Homo sapiens: one gene and its partner. Changing the gene in region 2 together with the main gene of any one other region gives a genetic interaction. Each region holds a gene or a part of one and is shown on either strand. Other genes may lie near its edges.

Region 1 (3,649 bases), on a different chromosome or scaffold from region 2:
CACAGCATCAAGTATTTGTTAAGTGAAACGATAAAGAAGAATTTCTAGTCATTTAAAAAATACAGCCCAAGAATGGAAACATTGTGATGGTGCCTACTTCAACTGCTATGCCAGGTTTTGAAAGAGGAAGTAATTCTGTTGTCTCCAGGAGACCTAAGACCCAAACCATCTATGTATCTTTACTCTTTAGTCTGATACTTTTCAGAGACTATAGGAGTAGTGGACTTAGAAAAATAGAACATCCTGAGGACTCAAAAGTGGGTATCCAAACTAGCTGAAGCAGCTGTTCCACTTCTATAAACACGTATTTTTATTTAATTCTTGAAGGCAGACAGCCAAGTTGAGACAGCATTCTGCTTCTGCCTCTCATTTCTACTACTTTGGTGTACAGGAGCTCAGTTACCAAGTGGGCAACGTGGATTTAAGAGAAGAAATAAGCCCTTCCATCCCAATGTTCTGTTTTTCTCTAACTACTTTTGTCATTGTAGGTTTGGGAGAGGTGGTGGGACACAGTTAATACCCTTTGTCACTCAGGAGAGGGTGAGACATAATTGCACGTCTGTTGAGTAATAATAAATAGCCTACATTGGAATAGTGCCTTATAGTTTAGTAAATCCACTCCCACAAAGCATTGACATCTTCAAGTGCATGCTGTTTTTTTTTTCTTTTTTTCCCACTGTTTTTGAAGCATACCATATTAAAGAATTTTTTGTATCATGCCAAAGCCTTCTATCCATTCCCTACCATTCTTATTCCCTGACCTTTTTATGTCTCATTTTCCCTTTTGAGGGCTCAGCTTTGATCAAAAGCTAGTGGCAAATGTTACAAAGGTGGTAAAACCCTTAGGCACATACATAATGGCCTTTTGCCTTACCAGAGGCCTAGGCTTAAATATTTTCTCCTTACATTTAGCTAGAGATTTCTATATTTATTTCATCTTGAATTCTGATTCATCTCTTTCTTTTCATTTGTTCTCAGTCTCTATTGAAAAATGGACCAAGTGGTTCTTCTTATTTTCAAAACATTTAATTCTTTGGATGACATATGGGTTCTTCTTGGGAGCTGTTTTGACATATTTCTTTAATTAGTCAGCAGGGCTGCATTTGAATAGAGGAGGAATCTTTTCCTCCATTCAGCAAAGGAATGGCTGTCCTTTATGGAGACCATTCTATTATTGGCCCAGGAAAAAAGGGTATAGAATTAAAAATGTAGCCTAAATATTTCATGTGAAAGATTTGTCCACTTGTTGTAGGCCTGAAGGATGCTCATGGAGAAACAGGGCAAAAGAAATAATCAAAGAATAGTTCCTTCTCAAAGGCAGCATGAATCAAACTAAGATAAACGCCATGATAAAGAAAGAATAATGGAAAGTTTGGAATTAAAGCAGCATATAAATCATCAAGCAGGAAAAGGATTGTCTGTGGTTTGCAATAAGAGGACATCTTTGGAGTGCATAGAGGAGAATGACAGCAAAACAGGAAAGATGGGGGTTGGAGGAAGCCGAAGAATAAAAGTAGAATATCCATAGCTCTGTCCAACAACTTGTAGAGGACAGCCACAGGTTGGGTTTCTTGAAGAGGTTAGGAAAAGCACTGTAGAAGGGGAGGAGAGTGAGTGCCAAGCTATGGGGGCTGGAGGGCTGGAGAGAGCCCACCATATTTGGAGAACAGTGAAGGACCAGTTTGGAGTAGGGGCTAACTTAGGATGACTTACGGAAGAAATAGTTGAAAAGATATGTTGAGGTCAAATTATGGAAGAGATAATGGTTAGGAAGGGGTTGGAAGATATAAAGAAAAAGTGAAAGAGTTTGAGCAGAAGTGAATGAGACCAGAGGAAGGATGTCCTAGAAATTGTGCCTGAGTAAAACAGAAAGAAAAGGAATTGAAGGGTGAGAGTGAAATTTGGAAAAAAAAAAAAAAGGATTTGGCTTTTTCATTGTTGTTGTTATTAATTTTATAACAATTTAAAAACAATAACCTCTTAGAGAAAATGAAGAAAATGAGTTGGAAAGAACATATTTTCGGGGAAAGATGTATTATTGCAAGTACGGTAAGAGTTATGGTTAAGGCAGCTTGTTGAATAGGAAGAAAAATAGTGGATTAGAGAAGTATTTTAAGACTGGGGCAAAAACGACTCTAGTTAATTACTACAGTGAGCAGAAAATAGAAAATTATTTGACAGATAATTTAATTTAGAGTCTTAATTGTAAAGAATCTTTAAGAAAGTTTGTGTATTTATATTTATGTTACACATATGTTTATGTAGACAGTAAATCTAGCCAAGGTCATGATAATGAACCATAACATGAATTTTGGTGAATTAAAAAGAGATTCTAGGGATTGAAATGAATTTGAAGAGCAAACAGTGAAAGTTATTTTTAAGAATAATGAAAAGTTATCTAACTAATACAAATATATTCAAACTGAAAAGTCCAAATAACAGAGGAAATCTAGTGAGAATTATTTGTTGAGCCATGTAAATGTTTGAAATATTTTGGGGAATTAGGATAGAAGTCACATGCTGGGTTAGAACATATGATAGCAATAGAATCTCATTGAAAAATCAAGCCCTGTTTTGAAAATGTACTAAAGGAAAGGTGCTAAAGAAATGGGAAGTAAAACTACAGAGATAGCTAGTTAGCCAAAAGGTTTATTCTAAGCAGAATATTGCTTAGCCACATATACAAAAGGCAAGAGATTTTAGTTGGACCCAGAGGCTTGGGAGAGAAAATAACAAGGTAAGTACATTAATTTTATTAACCTGTAAGCGACTGTATTTTAGCTTTCTTAGGTGAATGTTTGTGCCATATGGAAAAAACATCTCTTTGCTTACTATTGGCACAATGAGCCCTGTTTGAAATACCTATTAAAATATACATGAGTGCCTACTGTGTGCACAACACAAATCTCATTAGCCTCTTTTTAAAATATGCTGAAACAAATCACTGCCTAACTTGTAACTCATGTATTGTTTTTCTGCTCCTTCAAAGTCATCAAAGCAGTATTCGAGTCTATATGTTAGGTGCTGTTTTGAGAAGGCAGAGACTGCATTCCATGAGAAGGAGACCAGGTTGGATGGTGGAAGTAAGGGTATTCAAAGTGCTGGTATAGAGTAATATAGTAGTAATAGGTCCATGATGTGGGGATAATGTTTGAGGAAAGCCAGGAATACAAATTACTGAGTATTAATCTCAAGAGTTTGGGATCAAAACCTCAGAATACTTTGGATAGGATTGAAAATAGAGTGTTGGCAGGGCGCGGTGGCTCACACCTGTAATCCCAGCACTTTGGGAGGCCGAGGCTGGCAGATCACCTGAGGTCAAGAGTTCGAGACCAGCCTGGCCAACATGGTGAAACCCCATCTCTACTAAAATACAAAAAAAAATAGCTAGGCATGGTAGCAAGCGCCTGTACTCCCAGCTACTTGGGAGGGTGGGGTGGAAAATCGCTTGAACCCTGGAGGCGGAGCTTGCAGTGAGCCGAGATCACGCCACTGCAGTGACAGAGCGAGACTCTGTCTCAGGGAAAAAAAAAAGAAAACAGAGTGTCTTCTGCTTTAGAACCAGCAGACCTTAGGCTGTAGATATCCAGCTGGTAGTATGGTTCTCAGATTTCTGGATCAATAGTGGTATCACAGGGCTGATGTCTCA
Region 2 (3,649 bases):
AGGGGACAGTGGGTGCAGCCCCCATGGCACTGGCCCTCGGCTCTCCAGGAGGCCTCAGAGACTGTGTCACCTGAGCAGCCGGGGAGCAGGACCAGGAGCTGGGAAAAAAAAAACCGAACATCCCGCTCTTACTATGAGATTTTTCTCAGCAGTGGCCGCGGGCACTCACCTTTTTGAAGTGTGTGGCCGACTGCACCTTCCTCACGGGCTGCATGAGAGAGTCCCGCACGATGATGCTGATGTCCGCGCCCGAGTAGCCTTCCGTCTTCCGGGCCAGCTCGTGGATGTTTGCATCCGTGAGGTTGTGGGGAGTGCTCCCGAGATGCAACCGGAACATCTGGGCGCGGGCAGCTTCCTCCGGCAAGGGGATATAAATTCGTTTTTCAAACCTAGAGAGCCCAGCACACGGCAGGAGTTGACAGCGGATGATGGAATGGTATTCACGGAAGGGGAGGCACGAAGATTTGAGTGAAACGGACGCATTTCATGGGCCAGTGATGCTGGCGGCACATCCTCAACAAGCCAGCCTCACAAAGGGCTCTGCTTGGCAGGCAGACGGGAAGACTCCAGGGAAAAGGGGCCAGGCTGCACCCGGGCTGCCAGCAGCAGGCGGACCGTGACCATGGTGGGAGGAAGCCTCCAGCCCTGGCTTCTCCTGGGGAAGACTCACCTCCTCCTGATGGCCGAATCCAACACCCATGGGATGTTTGTGGCTCCAAGAACCAGAGTCCCATCATTGTTATTCCCCACCCCTGTGGAGAAAGGGAGACAAAGACTCAGACTCTGGACACCTGCACGGGTCAGTTGAAACCTGGGGACAGACCCCGGGGGCTTTGTGTGTCAGCAATTGAAGCCATCCCTGTGCCACCCACCACTGGCAGGGTCCCAAGTGAGATTAAACCACATCTTGGTCTGGCTGTGCCAGGTGAGACCTATGGCACTGCCTGCCATGGGAGGGGTGGAGTGGCCCGTGAGGCAGAGGCCTCAGGCACCTCTTGGGAATTGAAGTCCACCCGTGCCCTGAGGGGCTGGAGCTGGGGAGTGCCTCTCCGAGGCTGAGAACAACCAAATCCAGCCGCAGCTCAGAATAAAGCCCAGGGTTGGCTTCAGGTGCAACAAGAACCAAGGGGGCCCTGGGCCCGGCACACACCCTGCATCTGGACCAAGAACTCCGTTTTGATCCTCCGGGCGGCCTCACTCTCATTTTCATTTCGGGACCCGCAGAGGGAATCCACCTCATCGATGAAGATGATGGAGGGCTTGTGCTGCCTGGCCAGCTCAAACAGGTTCTTGACCAGCCTGTGAAGGTGAGAAAGGGGGTGAGGACAAGACGTTCACGTCCGTGCCCGCCTGGGCTCCCGGCACTTCCCTCTTCTCACCCTTCCCACAGGGAGGCGCAGGCCACGGTCATGCCGGAATTGCGGAAAACGTGGTGGTGAGGAGCCCTCGGGCCACACTGCACCAAGAGGAGGAGCACACCTTGGTGTCAGCCCCAAACGCAGAGCCTCAATCCCAGGAGCCCCATGCGCTAGCTCTGCACTTACAACACGTCAGTCCCCTTCTTCCGAGCCCGTCTCATCACACGCAAAACAGGAGTCAGTGTGGGGAACCATGTCCCCCACACACTGCCCCAACAGGGACCGCAACCCAGACCCCAAAAATATCCTCACTTCCTTTCCCTTCTCTTGTGGAGCACTTCACCTCTCCCAGGTCCCTTCCACCTTCACTTGTCTTTGTTGGGACTGTGTCCCAGCCGATAAGCTAGCGACACACTGCTCTTGGGTACCCTCCCTGAAAACCAAACCACTCCTCTGAGAGGTGACTCCACAGGGTGGGCCGCTGGGTCACTAGCAGTGCCGGGGCTGCTGGCAGAGCATGGCCTGGTGGCCGACTTACTTTTCACTCTCCCCCAGCCACTTGGACATCAGATCTGAGGAGGACACAGAGAAGAAGGTGGAGTTGTTGGCCTCTGTTGCCACGGCTTTGGCCAGGTAGGATTTCCCTGTGCCAGGGGGTCCGAACAGCAGAATCCCCCGCCAGGGGGTGCGCTTGCCTGCAACAGAGAACCACAGAAGTTAGGCCTCCTGACTGGGGAAAGGAATAGGAAAAGCAGAGGGTCTCGAGTCCCATACATACAGTAAAACAGGGCATTCTGTGAAACAACGGACTCTACTGGCAAACAAGTGATGGGAGCTACATTCCCTGCTGTGCCCTGTGCTATGACCCCATGACCTTGCACAGTGCCCCTGCTATGACCCCATGACCTTGCACAGTGACACCGGCTGGCACTGCTTCCTGATCCTGCCCCCACCCTGTGACGTGATCGTCATCTCATAGCTCCAGCCACAGCAGTGTTGTGGACACCAGCGAGCAGCCAGGCCTGGCCCTCTGCAGGCCCCGGGGGCTGAGTCGCCACTGACTCCCGGGTGCCTCGGAGTGCCAGCCCTGCGGAAGCCTGGAATTTTTACATTGGGGTTTGAAATGGCTCAACTCTCACCTGTGAACAAGTGTGGGAATTTGATTGGCAAAATGACAGCTTCTTTGAGGGCCTCCTTGGCCCCCTCCAGCCCGGCCACGTCGTTCCACCGTATGTTGGGCTTCTCCATCACGACGGCACCTGCGAGAGGGAGGCCGGCCCGGGCCCGGGCCCGGCCAAGGGGCATGAGCCAACCCAGCAGCGGACCCACTCTCATCCCCTGCCGCTGCCACAGGGCCGCGAGCCACTTACCCATCAGCTGTTCTTGCAGTTTCTTTTTCTCCGGATTATCCCCTTCACTGTCACTGTCACTGCTGGGAAGGGAGACGGAAAGTCACAAGCTGGCCCTTCAGCCTGGAGCACAGAGGTGCTCCCAGCAAGTCCAGGCTCCGCTGCCTGCACACTGGTTAAGGAACGAAGCCTTCCTGGCTTAACAGTGCCGTGTGACTCAAGCAAGTACTTCAGGGACATTTGGGCCAATGCTCTCAGCAGCTCACTTCAGGACCCCCCCAGCAAACACTCCTATAACCCGCCCTGTTTCTTCGCGGAGCAGATGGGAATCCGGGTCGGCCCTCTCCTGAAGGCCGTAAGGGAAATGTGCTTCAGCTGGACTTAAAGAGCAGCCCAGGCCAGGTGCGGTGACTCACACCTCATACTCTGGGAGGCCACCTGCAGTGGCTCTCACAGCCCAGGCTGGGTGCGGTGGCTCACCCCTGTAATCCCAGCACTCTGGGAGGCTGAGGCGGGAGGATCGCTTGAGCCCAGGAGTTTGAGACCAGCCTGGGAAACAGCGAGATCTTGTCTCTACAAAAAACACAAAATTAGCCAAGCATGGTGGCACGCACCTATGGTGCCAGCTACTTGGGAGGCAGAGGTTGCAGTTAACCAAGATCGCACCACTGCACTCCAGCCTGGGAGACAGTGAAGCCCTGTCTGGGGGAAAAAAAAAAAAAAAAGCCAGTCAAACAATGCAGCTGCCAGAAGCTTCTTTTTTTTTTTTTTTTTTTTTTGAGATGGTGCCCAGGTTGGAGTGCGATGGCACAATCTCCATCTCAGCTCACTGCAATCTCCGCCTCCCGGGTTCAAGTAATTCTCTGAATTCTCTGGCGTCAGCCTCCCGAGTAGCTGGGATTACAGGCACATGCCACAATGCCTGGCTAATTTTTTTTTTAA

The links. A genetic interaction does not mean that the proteins touch.
Region 1: of VPS4A (region 2) and ATG10, changing one enhances a phenotype caused by changing the other (phenotypic enhancement), as found in Homo sapiens cells (one large-scale study listed by BioGRID).

The regions. Positions count from the first base shown.
Region 1 is NC_000005.10:82,167,416-82,171,064, forward strand, and holds part of ATG10 (ubiquitin-like-conjugating enzyme ATG10), read left to right. Parts: intron 1-3,649. UniProt on the Homo sapiens protein: E2-like enzyme involved in autophagy. Acts as an E2-like enzyme that catalyzes the conjugation of ATG12 to ATG5. ATG12 conjugation to ATG5 is required for autophagy. Likely serves as an ATG5-recognition molecule. Not involved in ATG12 conjugation to ATG3.
Region 2 is NC_000016.10:69,317,791-69,321,439, reverse strand, and holds part of VPS4A (vacuolar protein sorting-associated protein 4A), read right to left. Parts: intron 2,791-3,649; coding exon 2,729-2,790; intron 2,618-2,728; coding exon 2,498-2,617; intron 2,054-2,497; coding exon 1,897-2,053; intron 1,300-1,896; coding exon 1,151-1,299; intron 753-1,150; coding exon 671-752; intron 390-670; coding exon 170-389; intron 1-169. UniProt on the Homo sapiens protein: Involved in late steps of the endosomal multivesicular bodies (MVB) pathway. Recognizes membrane-associated ESCRT-III assemblies and catalyzes their disassembly, possibly in combination with membrane fission.